Linked DNA regions of Homo sapiens: region 1 is linked to region 2. The links come from fine-mapping of genetic effects on gene expression. A gene starts in region 2. The other region holds a variant in brackets. All regions are shown on one strand. Distances are from middle to middle. Region 1 overlaps GGA1 (golgi associated, gamma adaptin ear containing, ARF binding protein 1). Region 2 holds the start of GGA1 (golgi associated, gamma adaptin ear containing, ARF binding protein 1).

Region 1 (8,000 bases), 25 kb before region 2:
GTAGACACCTCAAGACTGCTGGCCCAGACTCAGCCCATAATGTGTGACTTCTCTGAGCCTCACTTCCCATTTCACAGGGCATTTCAGAGGCTTAAGATGGGAGGCTATAGGCATCAGGTCCGGGGGCTCCTCTTGCCTGCCTTGCTGGGCTGGTGCCCTGGTTGCAAGGCCCAGAGAGACTGGGGGAGGGGGTATGTCGAGAGACCAGGCAGACCAGGCACAGTAGCTCACCACAACACTTTGGGAGGCTGAGGCAGGTGGATCGCTTGAGCTCAGGAGTTCCAGACCAGCCTGGGCAACCTGGCGAAACTCTATACAAAAAATAAAAATATTAGCCGGGCATGGTGGCACGCGCCTGTGGTCCCAGCTGCTCAGGAGGCTAAGAGGGTAGGATTGCCTGCGCCGAGGAGGTCAGGGCTGCAGGGAGCTGTGTTTACAACACTGCCCTCCAGCCTGGGTGAGAGACCTTACCTCAAACAAACAAACAAAAAAACCAAAAAACTGACTGGGGGCCGGGTGTGGTGGCTCACGCCTGTAATCTCAGCACTTTGGGAGGCCAAGGCAGGTGGATCACCTTAGGTGGGAGTTAGCCTGACCAACATGGAGAAACCCCGTCTCTACTAAAAATACAAACTTAGCAGGATGTGGTGGCGCAGGCCTGTAATCCCAGCTACTCGGGAGGCCGAGGCAGGAGAATCGCTTGAACTCGGGAGGCAGAGGTTGCGGTGAGCCGAGATCGTGCCATTGCACTCCAGCCTGGGCAACAAGAGCGAAACTCCGTAAAAACAACAACAACAAAAAACCGACTAGGCAGGAGCAGGCTCCCAGGCCCTTGCCACTTCTCCTGGCTGCCATAAACAGACGAACAGTGTGATGCGGTTGCTGAAAACCAAAATTAACTGGTGCCTCGGCCAAATCAACAGAAATGGAAGTGGGGCTTCGAGATCTGGGAAGTCCCACTGGTCTTGGCATGGCACTGGGGGTCACCCTTCAAGAGACAGAGCACACGCCTCCCCAGTGCACTGCATCCCAGCCCCTGAGACTGCAGAGCGCAGTGGCCCGGACCTCTGTGCAGCAACACGGTATTTGGGGAAGGACTCCTCCAGGGAGTGGAGGCCCAGGGTCCTTTCCTCTGGTTAGAACCCACCCCAGACTCTCAGACAGATGCAGGGCTTCTGTGGTACCTTATGTCTTTGCTCTCAGGGTGCCACACTGGCTCCCAAGTCCTTGCCAGCTTGTGAACTCTTAGGACAGGGGCTGGCCCAGGGGCTGCTCAGGAAACACTGGCATGACTGACAGGATGGGTGGGTTAAGGACAAGGCAAGGGACAAGGTCCAAAGGCTGAAGGGACCCCACCTTCCCGTCCCCGGAATATCCTGGGTCACTCCAAAGCTGACAGCCTGGCTCCTTTGTCCAAGGACTCCTCAGAGGGACCTTATAGCTCATTGAGTCCCTCTCCCCTTTTCCAGAAAGGAAAGCATCTTCCTCAAAATCACACAGCAAGCCAGTGACCCAGCCAGAACCAGCCCCCAGACTCCCAGCTCACAGTCCCACCTGTTCCCCATGCCAACCTGTACTCCTCCCTGCCATGGCCAGTAATGAAGACTGTGCTGGAGGTGGGACTCTGGCACCCCAAGTGGATGCTGCAGGGGTTATGGTTTCATTTCAGGTAGAAGAAACTTCCAACCGGAGTTATCTTCAGGAGACATCACAAGTGTGGAGGCGAGTCCTGCAGGGTAGGGAAGGGGAACAGGAACGAGGCCACGTGGCTGGGACAGGGTGTCTGGAAGCCTCCAGGGGCCAGCCTCTGTCTGGAGGGCTGTGCCAGGGTGGGAGTCCCACTGTAGGGATCTGATAGGAGGCTCCCGCAGGGTGCAGCTAATGCCTCTTGTCCCCTCAGCAGTAAGGCGGACATGGAGGAGCTCTCAGCCTGCGCTTTCAGTGTGGGCCCAGCAGAGAGGGGCCCCTTGCTTGCTGATGAGTGTTAAAGAGCACACACGCTGGGATGCGGGTGTGCTGGGCAATTCTCCAGCATGTCACAACTATATCTAAGGAGAAGGGTTCAGCGGCCAAGTTCAGATTGGGAAACACTAGATTAGACAAAGTGAAAATGGCTTCTTAAATGAGGGACTTCCCAGGGTCTGTATGGGCTCATCTACTCAGGAGAAACCGTGCGCAGCCTCCCTGGACTCATCTGAGCAGGGAACACTTTCCTGCAGAGCCACACGCAGGGCTGGCCTCCCACACAACAGGGCCCATCTGCCTGGACCAGCGCCCCCTCGCTCCCAGCTGTGTGGCCTCGAAGCCACGCCCAAGCTTGGACCCCAGCCTCCTGGTTGGAGAAAACTGATAGCACTGTGTGGGGGAGAGCTGCCGCTGCGAGTGGCAGGGGCCCAGCTCAGGGTCCCTGGGTCTGCTCCCAAACAAACTGCGATTGGTGCTGGGCAAGGGAGTGATGTCTGGGGGGAGGGAGAAGCTGGGCTTGGACTTCCCTCTGGGGTGCTGCAGCATCGAGGTTGTGTGGAGGGCTGAGCACAGCAGGAGGAAGTCGTGAGCAGCCAGGGGCCTCCCCCTCGGTGTCTGTAGCAGCTGGGGCTCCTGCCAGGCCCTGGCGGTCGCCCACTTCCAGCTGGGACGGTCCTGGTCCGCCACAGCCCAGCGCCCTCTCTGGTGACTCAGCACTGGCCACAGGCCCCTTTGCAGGGCCTTTTCCGGTGCAGGGCCCGGGGGGTGGTGGGGAGGGGGCCCACGGCCTGACCTCCAAAGACGGAAGTGGAGAGGTCTACAGGGCAGCCCTAGGGAACATGGACTCAACCCCTCCCATCTCCCTCAACCTCCAAAGGGCCACGAGAGCAGCTGGTCCAGGAAAAACGACGTTTTATTTTCATAAATACTCCTGCTCTCACTCACACACTGACCCCACTTCTGACCACGGACAGATGGATGGACAGACGTAAGACACCCATAGGAGGCCCCAGCAGAGGCCAATGAATGAAGGAGACACACCGAGAACTCTAGGTGCCCCACAGCCCCTCGCTGGGGCCATGGGCCTCTGGCATTACCCTTGAGCCCCCACAGTCCCTCAGGGGGCCCAATGGCAAAGGGAAACCCCCAGGAGTACGGGCCAGGTGAGGTTCCCCCAGCCTGGCCCCCTGAGGCTGTGACCACAGGGCCAATCCGGAAGAAAAGCAGAGTCAAACCACACACCAGAGTGCAAATAGCTGGGGGTGTAGGCGTCACCCCCCAGTCACTGGGTTCCTATGGAGGAGGCCTAAGCTGGTCCCCAGCTCCAGCATGGCCCCCGAGTTATGGCTGGGCCTTCCCATAAGGCATAAGAGACAGGTGGGGAAGACCCCACCCCAGCTGGGGTTGGGGCTGGGCCTGAGGTCCTGGCCCTTCCCCAACAGCTGTGCTTCCTCCCCATGACCCAAGTTCTTCCAAGGCTACACAGCCCCTCCCTCTCCAGGTCCCGGTGATGGAGACCCCAGCGGCACAAACCCAGGCCCAGCCTCCTACTGGGTTTGGCTCAGCAGGGGCGGGGCCGGAGCAGGAGGGGGAAGAGTCACTTGAGGCCTACAGGGGTGTGGGGAGAAGCACCAGGCCTGGGGGTGAATGGCCATGGGCAACAAAGGGTGTCCTTGGCCACCAATGCCTCCCTCCAGGCTGGACAGTGACCGGTCCCTCTGCCCCTTCCTCTCCCCAGCCCCTCTGTTCTAGAGGCTACCCCAGGTTTCAGGTGGGGGGAACTGGTCCACATCCCCCATCTCGTTGTAGGTCTGGTCACCCATGGTGAAGGTGAGCTTGTAGCGGAGGCGAACCTTCTCCTGGGGAAGAGATGGCAAAGGCAGAGGGGTCAGAGGAGGAGAAGTGGCCGTCCCCACCCTGCAGCACTGCCTGGGGGCCCCTTACCTTCTGGGGGTTGGCAAGCAGCAGGACCTGGGTGATTGCTGAGGGGTGGACGATGGGGTTAAAAGCTGGCAGCTCCGTGCCCGAGGGTGGCTGCAGCTTCACCTTCATAACCTGTGGGCAGATGGCAGGATGGGCACAGCTAGCCCTGGCTGCTTGTCCTGCTCTGAGGAACCAGGCCCAGCCTGCCAGCTCCCCTCCGGGGATCCTGGGGCTCAGTCCTTCTGGTCCCTTCTACACCAACCACCCAGCAAGGGAGGGAGACCTGCCCCCTGACAGGTGGCTCCCCACCCAGCTCCATGTCACCCTGCCTTGAGAGGAGGGAGGCATGCCCTGTCCGACTGGCTTGTCACCTTGGGGACAGCTGACTGGAACACGATGTTGCGGATGGGCTGGGGGGCGGTGCTCAGCATGGAAACCACCACCACCAGCACGTCGGAGCGCCCTGGCAG[T/C]GGGTCCCGGGCAAAATGGAAGAGGATGCGGAAGCCGTGCTGGTCATACACAGTCACGGGCAGGATGTTGCCTGTGGGAGAAGGTGGGAGGGCGATGGGACAGCTGAGCTGCAGCACATCCGCTCAGCCCCCAGCCCCCACCCGGCTGGCCTCAGGAGCTGGCTGCTGTACTGGCAACAAGAGCAAAGTCCTCCTTTGGGGCCTTACCTGGACCCTGGGTGGCAGTGCAGGCAGGGGCACAGAGCGGTGCCCAGAGAGGGCAGGTGAACCCCCAGTCTGATAGTGGAGGCAGGACACCCACCCCAGAGCCGAGTCACAGCCCAGCTTCCCCCGATGCTGTGTGGCTGCTGCCTGGAGTGCTGGGGTGAGGGACTTGGTGAGGGTGAGTCTCACGCTGTGTGACCTTGCGGCAGTCACTCCCCTTCTCTGAGCTCAGGGTTCTCCTACTGGTGAGAGGGGCAGCTCTGCCCACTGCTGGGAGACACTGTGGGGGTAGTGTCTTTGGTCACAGGGAGCTCATAGAGGGCAATGCTGAGGACCACCAGGCCTCATGTGTCTGCTTGGGGCCCGGGGCTGGGCCATGGTCCCCTTACTGCTCCTGGGCTGGAAAAACCCAGCCTTGGATCTGGGTCTTTATCATGGTTCAGTTCTGTAATCTGGGGGAGACCCCAAACCTCTCTGTGTCCTGGGCCCTGCCTTCCTGGGGATGGAAGGGGCCCAGAGCCTACTCCCTAGAGGTCTTCTTGCTTATATAAGCCTGGAGTTTGTACAGCAGTCCTCTGATTGCTCTGGGGCAGATAAGGAAACTGACTCCTGGGAAGGGGAGGGCCTTGTTCAGAGCTCCCCTCTGGTTGGCCAGTGGCAGAGCCAGGGGAGCCCTGCTTTCCCACTAGCTTCCCCAGACAGAGCTCCTGACAGGGCAGCAAGCTGACCCAACCCAGCCTGCACCTGCCCCAGCCCTACTCACTGGGTTTGATGGACTCCAGGGGCACAGTGATGCTGGCCAGTGAGAGCTCGGTTGGTACGGGCTGCTGCGGAGGCCTGGGGGGCTCTGGGGACACGGTGTGGAGAAGGCTGGTGGCGCTGGAGCTGGGGGAGCTGCAGCTGCTGCTCTTATTCTGCAGGTCCCGGAGTGTGAGCCGGGGGGTTGGCTGCTGCTTCTCCCTTAATCGGGGGACAGTGCATTAAGAAGTGATTCTTGGCCAGCGTGGTAGCTCACCCCTGTAATTCCAACACTTTGGGAGGCTGAGGCGGGCAGATCGCTTGAGCTCAGGAGTTTGAGACCAGCCTGGGCAACATGGCGAAACCCGGTCTGTATAAAAAATACAAAAAACTAGCTGGGCGTGGTAGCGCACACCTGTGGTCCCAGCTACTCAGGAGCCTGACGTAGGAGAATCGCTTGAGTTTGGGAGATGGAGGTTGCAGTGAGCCGAGATCATGCCACTGTACTCCAGCCTGGGTGACAGGGTGAGACTCCCTCTCAAAAAAAGAAAAAGTGATTCTTTGGTGATGGAGAGATCAGGGGCACAGGAAAGGCTGGCACGTGTGGCTATCTCTCTGGCCTTGGGTCTTACCTTTAGAAGGAGCAGCTCGTGTTCTCCCTCCACCCTGCACCCCACCTATTCACTCCAGCCCAGTGTCCTCCCCTCTGCCGGCCCTCTGGACCTTTCTCAAGGGAGCTGGGAACACCTGGGGGGAGGCCAGGCCAGTGGGCCCAGGTCTGCCTTGGGCACTGTTGTGTTTCCAGAGGCAGGTGCACTGCTTGGCATCTGCTGCTTACAAAACAAGACAGCAACGAGCCTCTCCCTGCTGGGCCTGGACAAGCCCAGGAGAAGTTGCTGGTTTGTGGGAACAGGGAGTGCTCCCCACCCCATGCCAGCCATGGTGGGCCCTCACCACCGCACTTGCTGGGATTCCGGGGGCAGCGACTGCTGCAGGAGGGTCTTCCCCAGGAGGTCTAGGTCGTCCAGACCGCTGCTTGCTGGCAGGGATGTCTGCGCTGGGGGTCGGCTTTCCATACTGGGGGCCTGGGCCAGAGCAGGGGCTGGGGGCTCAGTGGCATCCGACGACTGTGGGGAAAAGGATGCAGGTGGGGTGGGGCTGTCTAGAGAGGTGTCAGCATCACCTGATCCTGCCCTGAGGCTCAGTGTCCTCCTTGCAAATGACATCTGGGAAAGCAGCCACAGAGGTGGGGACCCCAGACCACCCATGTCCATGATGCAGGGTGGCTGGGTCTGGTTGGGGGTTCTACAATCCAGGGACCTCTGTCACCCTCAAGGGAAAGGAAGAGGGATTGCCCATCTCAATCCCAATCCCAAAGGCTGGGCTGCAGCCCCAAGGCTGAGACTTGGGGAAGATACAGCTGGAGGTAAGGGGAGGCCCTGTACCCTGGGTGGGTGTCTCCAGGCCCCTGGGCCACCCCCTGGCCCTGGGCTCTTGAGTAGAGCCCATCCATCCTTTTAGTTTCTCCAGGCCACTTGTCCCAGCTGCCCTGACCCTGGGACTGGGACAGGCCAGACTAGTTTGTGGTCCCCTCCTACCTGGAAGCTGTTCCATCCGGTACCATCCAGGCTTGGGCCTGAAGGGGGTGTGGGGTCACTGAGGCCTGAGGGGAAAGCAGGAGAGAGGTGAAGGAGCTGGGCTGACCCTGCAGAGGCCAGAGAGCCGAGGGGCCATGTGTGCTGGCATGGGGCTCCCTACCCCTTTCTGAGGCTCAGCACGGAGGGGAGAAACCCACATTTTCAGAGGGAACCAGCAGCAGAGCAGAACCAGTAACCAAGATCCCGGCAACCCCTTGTGCTGACCCCACACACGCTTCCCCTCTTCCTGGCCAGGCCACTCCAAAGCTCTGTGCACACAGACAATAGACATCAGGACTTTCATCTTCACTCGTCATCTGGCAGCAGAGAGCCTGCAGGGCTGGGCTGCAGGGAGAAGAGGTTCCTTTCCTCACGCATCCAGGCAAGGGGAGAGCAGCTCTGTGCCTGCCACTGGCCCACTCGAGGGACGCCTGCTGGGTGACTGTGGGCTAGGCACTGTGCTGGCTGAGCCACAGTGTCCCCAAGAATACGAGGACAGGGCTGGACTGGAGGCGACGCTGAAGGCCCTCTTGGCCCTGGCACATGCCAGTGAGGCTCACTGGTACTATGGAGGGCTGGGGATCCCTGTGGATGGCCCTAGAACTAGCTGCCGATGGGAAGGAGGCAGCAGGTCACCAGCCAGCCTGACCTCTGCCTGCCCTGGAATACTGTCAGCCAAGTTCACCCCAAATCTGACCTAGAGAAGATAAGGGATCTTGTTTCCAACAAATCCTGAAAAAGTGAGGTCCAAACCGAAGTGCTACCTGACAGGCAAAGGCAAGGGTACCAGGAAGCTGTGACAGTGGGTCCCTTCTAGATGCACTTCTTAGAGGCCAGAGATAAAGTGCACTGATGATGCCCTAGATGCTTCAGGCCCTTCAGATGCTGGTCTTGCTTAATCCTCAAACAACCTTCAAAGGTAGGGGTGAGCTTCTCAGCCCTCTTTTAGGGATAAGAAAATGGACTCAAAGTTGGTAAATAACCTGCCCGAGAACACACAGCTAGAAAGTGGCAGAGTCTGGACTCAGACAGAGCATGGCCTGACTGCCAGCATTTGAACACA
Region 2 (11,552 bases):
CTGGGACTCTGGGTGACTCCGTCTCAAACAAACAAAAAAGAAACACAGAGGAGGGGACTCAGTTCAGTTTGGGGCTGAGGAGGCTGCCTGGAAGAGGCAACACACAAGCAGGGACCAGGAGGAGTCACCCAGGCTGGAGCTGGTACACCTCTGACCCACGCATGGCTGTATGGGCAGGAAAGATGCGGGTAACCACACGAGGCAGAGAATGAGGGGCCTCAGTAAGGAGTGTGAGTCTTACCATCACACCAGGTTCAGAAAGCCTTCATTCCCTTGGGAGTGGCTCCGGTGTCCCCTTCTCTAATCCTCTACTCCTGCCCAGGGTAGCAGTGCTGGGTCAGTTCTCTTTTGTGTCCCCCAGCCTGCTACGGCACTGCATCCCAGCCACTCATGTCCACACCTGTCTCCCCTTGGCAAATGAATGAGCAGTCAGCTGAGGGCAGGCAAAGGGTGAGGTTCTGGGGAAGACTGAATCCAGAAATGGATAGTGGCAAGGAAAGAGGGCCAACAGGTCTACATGAAGTGGTGTAAACACGACCAGACAGCTACCCCTTTAACCCCCAATACTGGTTAAACAACAATCTAGCTTACATGCTTCCCTGAACCTCCATTTCCCCATCTTGTAAAGCTGGAATGAAATATGGATTTTTTTTTTTTTTTGAGACGAGTCTCACGCTGTTGCCCAGGCTGGAGTGCAGTGGCACGATCTCGGCTCACTGCAAGCTCCGCCTCCCAGGTTCATGCCATTCTCCTTCCTCAGCCTCCCGAGTAGCTGGGACTACAGGCACCCGCCACCACGCCCGGCTAATTTTTTTTTGTATTTTTAGTAGAGACAGGGTTTCACCATGTTAGCCAGGATGGTCTCAATCTCCTGACCTTGTGATCCGCCCACCTTGGCCTCCCAAAGTGCTGGGATTACAGGTGTGAGCCACCGTGCCCGGCTGTATTTTTTTTTTTTTTTGAGACGGAGTCTCGCTCTATCGCCCAGGCTGGAGTGCAGTGGTGTGATCTCGGCTGACTGCAAACTCTGCCTCCCAGGTTCACGCCATTCTCCTGCCTCAGCCTCCCGAGTAGCTGGGACTACAGGTGCCCGCCACCACGCCCGGCTAATTTTTTTTTTTTTTGTATTTTTAGTAGAGACGGGGTTTCACTGTGTTAGCCAGGATGGTCTTGATCTCCTAACCTCGTGATCCACCTGCCTCGGCCTCCCAAAGTACTGGAATTACAGGTGTGAGCCACTGCGTCCGGCCTGTATTTTTTTATTTTTATTTTTTTTTGAGAAAGAGTCTTGCTTTGTTGCCCAGGCTGGAGTGCAGTGGCGAGATCTCGGCTCACTGCAATCTCAGCTTCCTGGGTTCAAACGATTCTCCTGCTTCAGCCTCCTGAGAGTAGCTGGGATCACAGGCGTCCACCACCATGCCCAGCTAATTTTTTTGTATTTTTGGTAGAGATGGAATTTCACCATGTTGGTCAGGCTGGTCTCAAACTCCTGACCTCAAATGATCCACCCACCTCGGCCACCCAAAGTGCTGGGATTACAGGCATGAGCCACTGTGCCTGACCAAAATATTGATTTTGGATGACAAAATACTTTTTGCATGGGAAGGCCATGGCGGCAGCCAGAGCTCGATCTTCATTTCTCCACAGCCCACCTCTAAGGACCACCCCTTCCCAGCCAGTTCTGCCCACGCCTGAGCACCGAGCTGAGGGTGTGGAAGGACACAGCCCAGGAGGTAGAACAGAGAAGGATCTGTGGACAGGAGGCTGGGGACTGACCCAGCATGTGGCGCCTGCCCTGGGCCATATGTTATGGCAGGGGGCCCAAAGCCCTGGAATCCCAGTGGCTGGCCGCCATTCATCCAACTCAGATTTAAGTATTCTGGGTGCTGGGGCTCCAGCAGTGAACAGACAAAATCCCTGCCCTCCTCAAGTTCACTGCCCAGCAAGAGAAACAATGAATACTCAGATTAACAAACCCCGTGTACTGCAGACTGTTGCAAAATGTTACAGAGCAAAGCATAGCAAGGAGAAGTGCAGACAGCCTGGGAGGTGGGGGCTGCTCTCTGGGAGGGCTTTCGGAGGGCTCTGGAGCCCTCGGGAGCTGCTCTCTGGGAGGGCTCTCAGAGCTGAGCTGAGATCGGAAGGACGAATGTTCTCTCTGGATCTAGATCTCTGTCCCAGGAGCTCCACAAGACCCTCTAGTCCCTCAGAAAAATGAAGCCCCTGTTGACCTCCTGGGGATACCAGGAATATGACCCTCCCCAACCCAGGGGTAAGGGTAACTGTCTACTCTGCCTCCGAGTCCCCAAACAAAGGCTGGGGAACATCAGTCTAAAGTTAGAGAATCACTGCCCATTCAATGACACCCAGCCAGAAGACCCTAAAACAGGAAGTCCCTTAAAGTGTCAAAGACACGTGAGTTGGAGTGAGGTCAGAGAAGCTGATTCTGGACTGCTCCTGGGTCAGACGCCAGTGAAGAGGAAGCGCTGGCATCATGAGACATCATCTTTCTCCCCCTGCCTCTGGCTGAAAGCCAGGGCCTCCAGATCCAAGGAGATCTGACTGACCTCCTTGGCCCATGGCCCCTGACCCTCAGCCCTCTTAATTCTACCTGAGGGGAGTACCCTCCCTAGCAGGCAGTTGGGGAGAACACCTAGAGAGGGAGGGAGGTGTTTCACAACAGGGTAAGACTCCACCCTGCCACTCTATAGTGCTGACAATAACATCATTTACCTCACTAGGCCGGGCGCGGTGGCTCACGCCTGTAATCCCAACACTTTGAGAGGCCGACGTGGGCGGATGAGTGGCTAACGCCTGTAATCCCAACACTTTGAGAGGCCTATATAGGCGGATCACCTGAGGTCAGGAGTTCGAGATCAGCCTGGCCAACATGGTGAAAGCCCACCTGTACTAAAAATACAAAAATAGCTGGGCGTGGTGGCGCACCTGTAATTCCAGCTACTCGGGAGGCTGAGACAGGAGAATCACTTGAACCCGGGAGGTGGAGGTTGCAGAGAGCTGAGATTGTGCCACTGCACTCCAGCCTGGGTGACAAGAGTGAAAACCCGTCTCAAAAAAAAAAAGAAGAAGCTATCCTTTACCTCCAGCCTCCACAAGGGAAGAGGAAAGATCTTACAATTCTGCTAGGACACAAAGGGGGAAGGAAAGGAGAAAATCCCAGCCCCAGTGTGTCAGGGCCCAGCCAAACCCAGGTATCTCTAACTTCTGCCTGGTTTTAGACTCTCTGGACTCTCAGAAAACCCCCACTGTTTCTAAACCTGAGAATGTTTTGTATGACCCACAGCTCAAGACCTGTGTCTGAGATCAGTTAGCCAGGGGCCCACCCATCCCCCCAGCCCAGTTGCTGCTGAGACCCAGGCGGACACTTCCGGCGTTCACAACGGTCAAGGGCTGCTGAGTGCCCCTTTTCCACCCCCTGCCCCTCTGGTGGCTAGGATGACTCTGAAACATCCCTAGAGGTTTGGTTCTGGGGCCAACCTCATGGTTCAACTCTGCTCAAGCCTGGCTTAAAAGGGGCCGGCCATGACCCCAAACCACGCTAGACAGTTGCCGGTGTGCCCGGGTCCAAGAGGGTTCCCTGAGGCCCTGGCAACGACGGGGTCCCAACAGCAGTTAAAGCCTTGGGAGAGAACCCTCACTAGACCAGGGAGAAGCCAGCCACGGCTTTCAGAGGCAGAGTCCAGGAGCGGGGCTGTGAGAGCAGGGGATCATCAGGGCTGTGGGTTAAGGAGCTCAGGTGGAGGGTTTGCGGGCTAGGAAGCCTAAGCAATAGGAAGCTACGTCTGAGGAGAAACAAGAAAAAAAGGGGTGTAGAAGCCTTTGAAGGAAGTTCAGCAAGAGCTGGGAAAGGCATCTTGGAGACTGAGGGGTTAGGCTGAAGGGAGTGACAGGGAGCTTGGAATTATTAATACTTCTGGAGTCTAAGACTCTCCCAAGCCTGTAGGGTGCGGGGGTTTCTCACTATGTGGCTAGAGACTAGGAGCGGCGGGAGGAATCAAATGGGGCAGTGGGTCCTCCCTTCCAGGACGGGGTAATGAGCAAATGTGACTACTTGCGGGCTCCAGGAACGCCATGCAGGGCCAGAGAGTGGAGGATTCGGGGCCTGAAAATAGTAGGGTCCCTCCCTCCCGGGTGTGAGATGCAACCCCGGGGAACCGCTCGCGTGCTCCTTCCCCGGGCCGCTACTCCGTGAAGCAATGTGAGCCTTGGGGGTTGGAGGCTGCTCTCTCCGTCCCGGGGGTTCCCGGCGCAGCTCACTCGCCGTCCCAGGGGTCATGGCCCAGGGATCCGACAGGTGGGCGGCGCCCGCTCCCACCGCTGGACCGCGCCGGGGCCGGGGTCCTCCATCGCTCCAGGGTCTGAGGGGCCGACTGAGGACACCGCCCCTCCCGGGCCGGGGGCGGGGCGTGAGGAGGGGGCGACCCGTACCCCGCCCCCGCCGGGAAGGGGCCCGCCTCGTGCCCCCGGTTCCGGTTCCGGTCCGGCCCGCGCCCCTCCCGGACACTCACTGATTCGCGCCTCCAGAGTCTCCGGCTCCATCGCGGGCTCCATCCGCCACCGGCCCCCAGCCTCGGCACCGCCCCCCCGCCCCCCGCAGCTCTCGCGGGACCTCCTGGGCACCGCCCTCTGCCGATTAAAGGGGCAACGTCCGAACGGGCGCGCTCGGCACCATAGAGAGGCCAACGAGCTCGCCTAGAGCGTCACCTACTCGCCCAACCCCACCCCCACGCGGCGTCTACGTCGCAGCTGGGACCGGCCGCCTGCTTTTCCGTTCCCGGCGCTCAGGCGGGAGAGGAAGTGGAGATACTGCAGGCTAAGGGCAGCACCATGGAAACCCCAAGGGACGCTCTAACTCGTTCTGCGTCACGGAGATGTCTGTGACCGCCTCCGGAAGAATTCTCTGCGGGCATGTTGCTGAGGGGCTCTGAGGCCACTTCCGGAGCCCTGAGCGGGTACTTCCGCTTAGAGTCGAACGTGGGAGAGTCCCTTAAAAGGGCGATAAGCTACATCCTCATGTACCTTGGCCGCTGTGAAAATGACGAAAATAAATCAGTTTCTTGAGTGCTTACAGTATTCTGGGCATTGTCCTAAGCACTATTTGTAATTAATCCATTTAGTTCTGACTCCTTACAACAAACCCACCAGATAATTAGTCGGCCTGAGGCCGCACAAGTAGCAGAGCTTGAACCCTGTGCCGTCTCCTCCATTCATCCAGCCAACGTTTAATGAACTCTTTGTATTTGCTTTGCTCTGTGATGGGCACAGAAGGAGATAGACAAGGCCAGATATTTATTACAGTGTGATAGGGGAAGCCCACGGGGTAGTGGGAACAAAGGAGGGGGCTCCTCCCCCAAACTGGGGTGGGGTGGGTGGGGGTGTTGTCAGGGGAGGGGTCGTGTCAGGGGAGGGGTCGTGTCAGGGGAGGTTTCAAGAGAAAGTGATACTGTACTTCGCTCAAAGACAGTCGGATTTCTCCACGTAGAGCTGGTGCGAAAAGATATTCAGGGAGAAAAAGTAGGATGAAGGCCGAGGAGGGCGGATCACGAGGTCAGGAGATCGAAACCATCCTAACACGGTGAAACCCCGTCTCTACTAAAAAAAAAAAAAAAAAAAAATTATCTGGGCGCGCCTTTAGTGCCAGCTACTTAGAAGGCTGAGGCAGAAGAATCGCTTGAACCCGGGAGGTGAAGGTTGCAGTGAGCCGAGATTGCGTCACTGCACTCCAGCCTGGGCGGCATAGCGAGACTCAGTCTCAAAAAAAAAAAAAAAAAAAAAAGTAGGATGAGTCCAGGGAGTTGGAAGTATTTCAATACGGCTCCCAGATATCTGCAAATAGATATCTATTTGCAGGAGATATCTTGGAATTAGGCTGGGGCAAGATCACCCAGGTCCCATGTTTTGCTGCCCTTTTTTTTTTTTTTCCCTGTAAGCAACGTTGGAGGTGTCGTTACAGTTTTACGGATGGTAGCAAAGTCAGGCTTTTGTTTTAGAAGGGTCCAGCAGTGGGAGGAAGATAGCAGTGGGAGCCAGACTGGAATCGGGGAGGACAGTACGAACAGACTTCCTAAGCTCGGCGCCTTTTCTCCTGTATCTCCCTCCATCAAAGACCTCCCTCACCTTGTGGCGTCACGACCTGGCGGCGCCTGGTCCCCGACTCACCTGGGTCCATTGCACTCTGTCGCCCCCTCGCGGCCGGCTGGGAAACCGGCCCGTGGCGACCTCTCCAGCGGTCCTGTGCCTGGGAGGGTTAAAGCTCCACTGAGACTAGGGAATCTGGCGAATCCGGTTCTGCCTTGGCGACTGACCTCGATTCACCTTGCGGAACCGCAGTAACCTCATCCAGGAGATGAGGGGGCTGTGCTGGGTCAGTTTTTCCCCTAAACTCAACCATTCAGCGACTGGGATGCTTTTCTAAATTCTCTCCCAAAGGCCATTGAGATTATACAGGGAAGTGATATGTATGTTTATTGCATTCCTCAACAAAAGCTGTAACGTAGTGTATACTTATAGCTTTTTGTTTATGTCTTTTACTACTGAAATGAATTATATATATTTTTTTATTTTATTTTATTTTTGAGACGGAGTCTCTCTCTGTCGCCCAGGCCGGAGTGCAGTGACGCGATCTCAGCTCACCACAACCTCTGCCTCCCGGGTTCAAGTGATTTTCCTCCCTCACCCTCCCGAGTAGCTGGGATTACCGGCGCCTGCCACCACGCCCGGCTAATTTTTTCATATTTTTAGTAGAGACGGGGTTTCACCATGTTGGCCAGGCTGGTCTCGAACTCTGGACCTCAAGTAATCCACCCGCCTGAGCCTCCCAAAGTGCTGGGATTACAGGTATGAACCACTGCGCCCAGCCTATTATATTTATTTTTGAGACAGAGTTTTACTCTGTCGCCCAGGCTAGAGTGCAGTGGCACGATCTCAGCTCACTGCAACCTCTGCTTCCTGGGTTCAAGCGATTCCCCTGCCTCAGCCTCCTGAGTTGCTGGGATTACAGGCATGCGCCATCATGCCTGGCTAATTTTTGTATTTTTAGTAGAGACAGGGTTTCGCCATGTTGGCCAGGCGGGTCTCGAACCCCTGACCTCAGGTGATCCACCTGCCTTGACCACCCAAAGTGTTTGGATTACAGGCGTGAGCCACCACGCCCAGCCTGAGATGAATTATTACTGAAATAAAACTCACATCGCATTTACTGCATTCATTTAGGGACATGTCTGTGCTGTCAGGAGTCACTTTTAAAGACAAAATAGATTTGATTTAGGTGCAAATTCTGACTTCACTGCTTTCTGGATGATCTTGAACAAGTGTGTCTGCAAAATTAATCCCCTACCACATGTTCCCTACCACCTTTTCTGCTGAACTTTTCTCCTTAGCACTTATCTCCACTACATATTTCATTTCTTTGTTGTGTTTTGTGTCTCTCTCCCCCACCAGAATGTAAGCTCCACCACGGCAATGGATTTTATTTAGTTACTTCACTAATAATATATCCCCAAGCCCTAAAACAGTAACTGTTACACAATAAGTATTCAATAAATATGCATCAAATAAATGAATGAATATGCCCAACATTGCACAGTGAGTATGGGGGTTTGGAGAGGCGAGCCAGGCTGTGCTTGTAACAAAGGCTCTAGGCTGTCCCTCTGAGTTCTGGGGAGCAGGGCGTGATAAGGTAGACTCAGGAGCTGTGTCTATGCGTGAAGGGCCTGGCCCAAACTGGGGATCAGGGTAGGAGGTACGGTAGGAGGAACCTAAAGATGGTGAAAGGAAGGAGGACCAACACGGGAAACTTGGAGGAAATGCCTGTGGCAGCCGTTCCCACCCATTCCCCACCATGAGCAAATGTGTTGCTTTGAGAGACTTGAGGAACCCCTGAGAAGGGCAGGTAAAGCTCAGCTATAATCACCTAAGCCATGCCGACCTCTAAGGATTTAACACCTCAGCTCCTTCCTAAGAAAACCCCTGGAACACTGGAAACGTTGGTGAGGGAGGGCTGGGGCGAGGGAATAGGAGCTGGGGAGATGGGCATCCTTGCAAACTTGGAGGAGAGATATGGGGGAGGACATGCAATTCTTTCTTGGAGGAGGATTGTAGAAGGTTCAGGAAACAAACTGAGGCGTGGCCCCAGCCTCAGCCCCTGTGACTCCAGTCAGATCCTGCATGTCCCTTCCGGGCATGGGAACCTCAGGGGAGGGGGGCACAGAGGACCATGGTTGTCATTGTCGCCTTTAATATTCCCACAGACCTCAGAGTTGAATTCTATTCTTCCTGTTTTACAGATGAGAAATCTGAGACTCTGAGCAAGGATGTGGTTGGCCAAGGCCCCCACGTGTCTCCATCACAAGAGCCCACATCAGAGCAAGTCCCTGCCTTCAAAGGATGGAAAGCACAGAAGCAGGCTGGGCGGGGTGGCTCAAGCCTACAATCCCAGCATTTTGGGAGGCCAAGACGGGTAGATCACTTGAGGTCAGGAGTTTGAGACCAGCCTGCTCAACATGGTGAAACCCCATCTCTACTAAAAATACAAAAATTAGCCAGGTGTGGTGGTATGCACCTGTAATCCCAGATACTTGCGAAGCTGAGGCACAAGAATTCCTTGAACCTGGGAGGTTGCAGTGAGCTGAGATCGCGCCACTGCACTCCAGCCTGGGCGACAGAGTGAGACTCCATCTCAAAAAAAAAAAAAAAAAAAAAGGCTAGTGGCTCAAGCCTGTAATCCCAGCACTTTGCCAGGCAGAGGCGGACGGATCACGAGGTCAGGAGATTGAGACCGTCCTGGCAAACATGGTGAAACCCCGTCTCTACTAAAAATACAAAAAATTAGCTGGGCGTGGTGGCGCGTGCCTGTAGTCCCAGCTACTCAAGAGGCTGAGGCAGGAGAATTGCTTGAACCCAAGAGGCAGAGGTTGCAGTGAGCCAAAATTGCGCCACTGCACTCCAGCCCGGGCAACAGAATAAGACTCAGTCTCAAAAAAAAAAAAAAAAGAATAAAAAAAGAAAACACGGAAGCAAACAAAGCACATGGAGGTAATTACGAAGGGACCCAAGTGGGCTAGTGTGAGAGAGTAGAGGCCATATGGGAAGTGGCCTGGACAGGCCTGTTGGAGTTGATATTTAAGCTGAGAAGGAGCCAGCGGTAGAAAGGGTGACTACGCAGACAGCAAGTGCAAAGGTCCTGAGGTCACACAGCTAAGAAGACAGAAAGCAGAATTTGAACTCAAGCTTGATTCTCTGCACCCAAAGTTCATGCATGATCCCAGGAGCCATGATTCCAGATGCTGCTGCTGACTGGGAGAGAGCAGACATCAGAAAGATGACAGAGCCTACGGAATGGATGTATTCAACTCCTCATGTATGTGTGCAGGGGACAGGGAGAAGGGCTCTATTTTCTGAATCCGATCTGGGCCAAGTGGTGTAACCAACATCATTGCCAAAATGTGTGAATTTACACAATAAAAGGCTCACAAAGTATTAAAATTTAGCTCTATTTCCCGGTGAATTTAATAAATTATCTTAATTGAAAAGAATCATGTTGGCTGGGTGCAGTGGCTCACACCTGTAATCCCAGCACTTTGGGAGGCCGAGGTGGGTGGATCACGAGGTCAGGAGTTCAAGACCAGCCTGACCGACATGGTGAAACCTCGTTTCTACTAATTAGCTGGGCGTGGTGGTGTAAGCCTGTAATCCCAGCTACTCAGGAGGCTGAGGCAGGAGAATCGCTTGAACCCGGGAGGCGGAGGTTGCAGTGAGCCAAGATCACACCACTGCACTCCAGCCTGGGTGACAGAGCGAGACTCCGTCTCCAAAAAAAAAAAAAAAAAATTATAATAAATATTTATTTATTATAAATAAAATTAAAAAAGAAAATGATGTTTAAGATGAAAAGAAATATAATTCAGTACAAATATATAAATGCCTGTGTTACAGAAGATTATCTCATTGGTTGTTTGCAGTTAAGCCTTTCCCCCAAAATCTAGATTGCCTGAAACAATGGGACAGCAAAAATAAGACCTGCTACAAGGTCAGCAAGACCCCGTCTCTACAAAAAATTTAAAAAATTAGCCAGGCATGGCCAGGCACAGTGGCTTACTCCTGTAATCCCAGCACTTTGGGAGGCCGAGGTGGGCAGATCACCTGAGGTCAGAAATTCGAGACCAGCCTGGCCAATATGGTGAAACCCCATCTCTACTAAAAATACAAAAAATTAGCCGGGCTTGGTAATGCATGCCTGTAATCCCAGCTATCTGGGAGGCTGAGGCAGGAGAATTGCTTGAAACCTGGGAGGCGGAGGTTGCAGTGAGCTGAGATTGTGCCACTGCACTCCAGCCTGGACAACACAGTGAGACTCTGTCTCAAAAAAAAAAAATTAGCGAGGCATGATGGCGCCTGCCAGTGGCCCCAGCTACTAGGGAGGCTGAGGTGGGAGGATGGATTAAGTCCAGGAGGTTGAGGCTACAGTGAGCCATGATTATGCCACTGCACTTCAACCTGGGCAACAGAGTGAGATCTCAAAAAAAAAAAAAAAAAATCTGCTGCAAGGGAAATCTGGGCCATTTCAGGGTGGGAGTGAGGGGACTGTGGCCACTAATGAAATGGATTTGTTCATTGGGCTTTTCCATGTCCTGGGAAGATTGGGGGGCAGGTGGGAATCTCCCATGTGACAGTTCATTTCACTACCTTTGATCTGATTCCAAATCAGGATAATTTGCTACCATTTATTGACTCATCCATTATGTGCCATGGCTTTTTCATTTATATCATACCAGTACTTTAAGATAGTTATTAGTCTTCTCAAATTACAGAGGAGGAAAGTAGAGGGCCAGTGAGGTTACAGAAACTCTTGCCTGAAGCCATAAATGGGGAGCTGGGGCCAAGTTCTGCTTGATTTCCAAGGTGCTGCAGGCTCTACCCTGCTGGTTTTCTCTGGGTGACCACCATGTAAAAGCCCCTTGGAGAGGCTGGGCACAGGCACAGGGGGCTCACGACTGTAATCCAAACACTTTGGGAGGCCAAGGCAGGAGGATCACTTGAGCTCAGGAGTTTGAGACCAGTCTAGGCAACCAGAAAAAAAAAAAAAAAGAATTAGCTCAGCGCTGAGTGTGGTGGTATGCAACTATAGTCCCAGCTACTCGATACGGCAGGAGGATCGCTTGAGCCCAGGAGGTCAAGGCTGCAGTTAGCCGGCCCAGGAATGTCTGCCCAAAGTTAGAGAACCTTAACCTCTGCTCAGTCCACCTCATGCTCCCCAAGCCAACTGTTCCTGCCTGCTCTAGCTCCCCAAGGACCTTAGATCTGAGAAGAGCTTATGTAGATTCACCTCAAGGTCTGACTACATGGTGTGGACCATCTCTGCTGCAGAGTGGGACTCTAGTCCCCAGCCTCCTCTGCCCCAGCTCTTCATAATATCAGCCTCTCCCTACTCTAGGTGCTCAGGTGTACCGGATGGGGTCATGTTTGCCAGTGACTGAATTGTGTGCCAACCAGTTAGGGGACAGAAGGGGCTGGGGAATGAAGAGTCTGAGCAA

What was found.
Region 1: its variant is fine-mapped to the expression of GGA1 in whole blood (TOPMed, PIP above 0.99). The same link has a PIP of 0.9 or more in blood mononuclear cells.

Annotation. Positions count from the first base shown.
Region 1 is chr22:37,628,425-37,636,424 of GRCh38, reverse strand. It overlaps GGA1 (golgi associated, gamma adaptin ear containing, ARF binding protein 1), which reads right to left. Exons shown (of 17, transcript NM_013365.5): 12 at 6,899-6,963; 13 at 6,255-6,427; 14 at 5,326-5,522; 15 at 4,260-4,429; 16 at 3,910-4,020; 17 at 2,861-3,824. The coding sequence ends at 3,714. Among named protein-coding and RNA genes, the nearest start is that of SH3BP1, 7.2 kb to the left of the region's middle. RefSeq lists enhancers at 1,998-2,087, 2,868-3,027, 2,248-3,121, 3,388-3,447, 3,628-3,687. The variant T/C (reference allele first, on the strand shown) is at 4,359.
Region 2 is chr22:37,601,881-37,613,432 of GRCh38, reverse strand. It overlaps GGA1 (golgi associated, gamma adaptin ear containing, ARF binding protein 1), which reads right to left and starts at 4,599. Exons shown (of 17, transcript NM_013365.5): 1 at 4,530-4,599. The coding sequence starts at 4,572. RefSeq lists enhancers at 3,770-3,879, 3,594-4,215, 4,820-4,989, 5,140-5,219, a silencer at 4,210-4,659 and a cis regulatory region at 5,964-6,423.